2 separate regions of the Homo sapiens genome follow, and region 2 is linked to region 1. Evidence: fine-mapped expression QTL. A gene starts in region 1. The other region holds a variant in brackets. All regions are shown on one strand. Distances are from middle to middle. Region 1 holds the start of TBC1D17 (TBC1 domain family member 17). Region 2 holds the start of IL4I1 (interleukin 4 induced 1).

Region 1 (3,008 bases):
TAGAGATCCCAGGCGCTCTGGAACCGCAAGGTGAGACTGTCTACGATTTGCCTCAGGTCTGACAGGACGATTCCCACGGGCGACCCCCTTCCAGCGCTCAGCAAAGGATCGCTGGCAGACCTCTGCCCTCTGATCTGTGCAGGCCATACCCCTCCCGTGAGCCGCTCGCCCTCCCAGCGCCCCGCTGCCTCAGGACGGCCAAATCCTCCCCACACCGCGGTTAACAACGCCGCCTCCACTCACGTGCCCGTAGCCAGCATGGCCGGCCCGGCGCCGTCACCGCCCTCAAAAGACATGGCGGCGCCTTGCGTCACGTCCGCGCAGTTGCCCCGCCTCCTCTCCGCACACTCCGCCTCCCTTATCGGGGCCGCCCGAGATCAAGATGGCGGCCACAGGGGCTTCATCCGAACCAGTTGACAAGGGTGACGACAGCTTGCCCCTAAGAAAAATGGCCCCGCCTAGAGCATTTCCATTTGCCCCCAACAATAATGGCCGTCCTCATATGCTCAATCATGACCACAGTAAACGAAGGCAAGCGACCTGACGTCCCTGACCCACAATAAACTTCTTCGACAAAAGTAGAGGAAATCGGTGCTCGTTAACAACATGGCAGCCAACCGGGCTTAATCAGCCCATAGTGTATATTGGCTCTCCCTCCCTCCAACCTGCTCCCATTCGGCACGAAGGCTGGCAAAGATCCAACACGGCAGCATTTCTTGCTTCGGTTTGCCAGGCTTCAAAATGGCGGCTCAGCCCGCTTTCTCGCGACGGTGACTCAGAAATTCGTCCGGGGCCGCTTCGTTTCTGGGGGCACTGACGGCTTCATCCCGTTATCCTGAGTCCCTCAGTGCCTCTTGTGGTGTACAGCTCCTCTCACCTCCTCTTCTCTTATCCGTTCGGCTCTTCCAGCTGTCGCGCCCCGCAGAGAGATGGGACAGCCCCGTATTAACATGGCCTTAGCTGACCGGCTTAGGCCATGCCCTCGAGCAAAATGGTACCTCCTTGGCTTCAATTCCAGTATACAATATGGAGAAGGAAGTGGGCGTTTCAAGGCGTGCTTGCCCCAGGTGGTGCAGCTCTCAGACCCTCCCACTTGTTTACTTCGTGGCGAGAGGGCGAACACTGCGCCTGCGCACTCTCCGTAGCCGGATCCACCTTCAGCGTCTGCGCCACGTGACTCCGATCCACCCTCGAGGTTCCAGTGGAATAACCCCCTTCTGAAAAATGGTTTCACCCGCTCCTTCTCTAGAACGGGTCGGGCCGCTACCACTGTCCGGCCCGGAGGGGAACTGTTTTCTCCGGAAGTGACAACACGCTGACTAGGAAAAGGAGGAGGCGGGGCAGTGGGGCCTTCGGCGGCGACTATGGAAGGAGCCGGCTACAGGGTAAGCACTGAGGACGCATTCCCTCGCTTCAGTGTATGCGAAACGCCCCGTCTAGTGATCAGCTCTTCTCTCAGGCCTTGGCTCTCGAGAATCCGGCACGGCCTTGGCAAACACCGATCTCTTATAAACGCGCCGTCACCCTCCCGTCCACCGCCCCAGGGAAGAACCTCCCATGGCCCCGCCCCCCCGGCTCAGGCGACTCCTTGAGCCCTGCCCCCTGTGGAACGCACGTCAGCATCCGAACGCGGGCTGGACCATTCTCCCCGCCTTGGTCCCGGGGCAATGGCCCTCCCGGCCCCGCCCCCTGAGGGTGGCTCCTCCCTGGGCCCGTCCCTATTGGCTCCCCAGGCTGGTCCCCTCGCTTGGGCCCCAGCCCTCGCTGGTTCCCCCCAACTCAGGTGGTGTTTGAGAAGGGCGGAGTGTACCTGCACACCAGCGCTAAGAAGTATCAGGACCGAGACTCTCTCATCGCTGGTGTCATCCGTGTCGTGGAAAAGGTGCGCTGGGAGGGAGCAGGGCTCGGACCCGCTCCGAGCGGGATGCAGGCGGTCTGGGATGCAGGCGGCAGCTGTAGGAGTTTGGTCTGGCGGTCAGCAGTGGGACCTGAAGAAGGCTGGGTGTGGGAACTGGAATGAGGGGCGGGACTTTGAAAGGCTGAGGGTAGAAACTGGGAAAGTTTGGAAATTTGCAACGGAAAGTTTTGGGAATGTGGTTTGGGGAGCGCCTCTAACCCCGCCTCCCTCCTTACCCTAGGACAATGACGTCCTCCTGCACTGGGCTCCTGTAGAGGAGGCTGGAGATTCCACCCAAATCCTCTTCTCCAAGAAGGTAGGCTCCACCCGCTTTGCCCTTCTCCACTCGCTTTTTTTCTAGGTCCGTGCTGTTGTAAGTCATTTGAGGGACCTGCGTACAATCCCAGACCTACTCGTGGGGCATGTGTGACCCTGTTTAGGCTTGGGTACTCTGCCTCTCCTTTTGCTCCTCTCTGTGAAATGGGCAGAGGATGCCCATTCAAGGAAAAAGAGCAGGGAGCATAAGACGCACGGTCGTGGGGACGGCTGACCCCTCTCTCCCTTTGCTTCTTGGGAGATCCCTGCCAGGGTGCAAGATGTGGATTCGAGTTGCTTGAAGGGAAATGGCATTTCCTCTGGTGCCAGAGGACAGGGCCTGACAGCCTACTCACCCACTTCGTCACTGCTCCCGGCTTTCCCTTCGTTATGTCTCCTGGGACTTCCCATGGCTGGACCCCGTCCTGGGCAATTCTGAGACCCAGAGATAAGTCAGATCCAGACCCACCTAAGCCCTGACCCTTACTCACTTTTTGAGAAACTGATAGATGAGGTCGAAAACGCTAGGAAGTGTTGGAACTTTTTGCACCCAGACAGTCTGATTCCAGATCCCCAACGCTTCCTGGGAGAGCAGACATTTGAGCTGGGACTCCCAGGATATGAAAGGACAAGAAGGTATTTCAGGGACAGCAGAACAACCTTCAAGGCACACGGAGAAGTTGGATGCCTCTGTAGGGGGGTTCTTTAGTGGGGAATGAGACCTCCATTGGAGCTGATGAGTTCCACCCAGGGGCCGGAAGTCAGTCGGCACCCACAGAGCTAGTGACGAGACACT
Region 2 (2,753 bases), 20 kb after region 1:
CCTGTCTCTTTCTCTTCTTTTCCCTCTTTCTTTCCTTTCTTTCTTTTTTTTTTAACAGTCTTTCTCTGCCATCCAGGCTGGAGTGCAGTGGTAAGATCTTGGCTCACTGCAACCTCCGCCTCCCAGGTTCAAGAATCCTCCCACTTCAGCCTCCCAAGTAACTGGGATTACAGACACCCATAACCAAACCTGGCTAATTTTTGTATTTTTAGTAGAGACGGGGTTTCGCCATGTTGGCCAGGCTGGTCTCGAACTCCTGACCTTAGGTGATCCACCCACCTCGGCCTCCCAAAGTGCTGGGATTCCAGGCATGAGCCCCCGCGCCCGGCCTCTTTTCCCTCTTCCTCATCTCCCCAGCTCCTGACTGCTTCTCAGTCCCTATTTCTGTGGGTCCTGTCTCTCTGTCCCCCCACCACTGGCCGTGTCACTACCTCCAGCTCTTGGTGACAGCAGGACAGCGCGGTCCTCTCCACTGCCCTCCACTGTCTCTGCTGTGGCCCTTTCTCTCCCCTTAAACTGGCAGAGCCCCGCCCACCCCTCCTTTTGGGAAACTGGCCGAGGGAAATGAAACTGGTTTCCTGGAGCTGCTCTGGTCCAATGCTCAGAGTCTAGTTGAGGTTGGAGAAAGGGGGTTGGAGGAAGTTAATCAGTCTATTCACTTCCTTTTGCCCCAGATAGTTCTGGGGTGGTTTGGAGGCCAGAAATAGATGCTCAGGTAACCGTGCCAACAACGGGGAATCCCCTTCGGTTTGCCCCCGTCCCTGATCACCAGGCCACTTGTTTCTATCCTCCCCTGCACTCTCTCTGCCTCCTTGATTCCCACGGGGACAGAGGGGCTACAGGTCCCTGGGCCAGGCCAACTTTCCCCTCCAAGTCCCTCTCCGTCAGGTGTCGCCATGTCCTGCAGGGCCCCCCATGGTTCCACTTCCCTCTCCACTTGCCACCCAGAGCCTCAGTCTCCCCCTCCGTTACATGGGTGTAGCAGTGGGGCTGGCAGCCGTGGTCCCGGGGTCAGGACGTGGGCTCTGAGCCCGCCCTCCCCTCTGTGGCTCTCGTCTACAGCTGTCAAATGACGTCTACAGACGTCACAGTGTTTTAGGATCAAGTGAGTGAATCCAGGTTAAGTTCTGTGGCCGGAACCTGGGGTAGTACTGGAAGCTGCTCCTTTGGAAATGCCAGCTGCTGTGGCCGCAGGGGCACTCAGGGGTTCTATGAGTGACCACCCGGCAGAGGGAAGCGCCCAGGCTTCACCCATCCCTGCTTTAAGAACCACCTCAGTGCTCAGGGCAGGGAGTGGGGCGGCACCTTGGAGTGGGTGGGGGTGGAGAAACAATAGCAGGGACTTTCCTTGGGGTGGGGGAGAGGGAGCCAGGGGCTCCGTGAGGAGGAAAACCAGAGGGAGGCAGATTCTCTGCAGCAAGGGTTGGGTGGGGGTTGGAGGGCATTAACAAGAAGGAAGATGGGAAACTCCCGCAGTAAATCAAAGAGGGATGCGGTTATGGCCGGGAGGGGCTGGGGGGTGAATGTGAGTAACAAGGCATGTGACGCAGGGGCGGGAGGCCGTGGCAAAGGGAAATGATCAAAGAGCTGGAGAGTTCAGGGACCGAAAGAGCTTGGGTCAGCAAAAATAGTGACGAGGGCCAGGGGTGGCTCACGCCTATAATCCCAGCACTTTGGGAGGTCGAGGCAGGCGGATCACCTGATGTCAGGAGTTCAAGACCAGCCTGGCCAACATGGCAAAACCTCGTCTCTACTAAAAATATAAAAATTAGCCGGGCATGGTGGCATACGCCTGTA[G/A]TCCCAACTACTCAGGAGGCTGGGACAGGAGAATTGCTTGAACCCAAGAGGTGGAGGTTGCAGTGAGCTGAGATCGTGCCACTGCACTCTAGCCTGGGTGACAGAGCCAGACTCCATCTCAAAAAATAAAAAATAAAAATAAAAAATAGTAATGAGGGCCGGGTGCGGAGGCTCACTGCTGTAATCCTAGCACTTTGGGAGGCCGAGGTGGGAGGATTGCTTGAGCCCAGGGGCTCGAGACCAGCCTGGCCAAGATGGCGAAACCCTTTCTCTAAAAAAGAAAAAAATAGTGACAAAAATGTTCCCATGGCGATCACCTGCCTTGGAGGCCGCCTGGTGCTCAGGGCTTTGCACCCATCGTAAGCCTCACAATGCCTGCATTTGAGGCCAGGCACAGTGGCTTACGCCTGTAATCCCAGCACTTTGGGAGGCTGAGGTGGGCGGATCACTTGAGGTCAGGAGTTCAAGACCAACCTGGCCAAAATGATGAAACCCTGTCTCTACCAAAAATATAAAAAATTAGCCAGGCGTGGTGGTGCACACCTGTAATCCCAACTACTCGGGACACTGAGGCAGGAGAATCGCTTGAACCCGGGAGGCAGAGGTTGCAGTGAGCCGAGATTGCACCGCTGCACTCCAGCCTGGGGGACAGAGTGAGACTCCGTCTCAAAAACAAACAAACAAACAAACAAAAAACCAACAACAATGCCTGCATTTGATAGTTGAGGAAACTGAGGCTTGGAGATGGCGAGAGGGTGGGACAGGAGGACCCTGGGGCACAGAGAGGGGAAAAGGCTTGGCCTAGGTCTCAGAGTTTCATTCACAGCGACATGTCAAGTATGAACGCGGCGGGATTGGGGCCTTATTCGCCTGTGCCTCGACCTGGGTCCCACAGTGGGGAATGGCAGTGCTGGCATTCCTCACCAGGTCGGGTGGGCCCCAGGTCCCCGGCCCCT

The links.
Region 2: its variant is fine-mapped to the expression of TBC1D17 in monocytes (Quach 2016, PIP 0.95).

Annotation. Positions count from the first base shown.
Region 1 is chr19:49,876,360-49,879,367 of GRCh38, forward strand. TBC1D17 (TBC1 domain family member 17) reads left to right here and starts at 1,343. Exons shown (of 17, transcript NM_024682.3): 1 at 1,343-1,385; 2 at 1,784-1,882; 3 at 2,139-2,213. The coding sequence starts at 1,365. AKT1S1 (AKT1 substrate 1) reads right to left here and starts at 996. Exons shown (of 5, transcript NM_001098633.4): 1 at 878-996. RefSeq lists enhancers at 1-576, 160-799, 980-1,319, 1,537-2,496 and a silencer at 1,540-1,829.
Region 2 is chr19:49,896,404-49,899,156 of GRCh38, forward strand. It overlaps IL4I1 (interleukin 4 induced 1), which reads right to left and starts at 484. Exons shown (of 8, transcript NM_152899.2): 1 at 432-484. RefSeq lists an enhancer at 1,414-1,593. The variant G/A (reference allele first, on the strand shown) is at 1,798.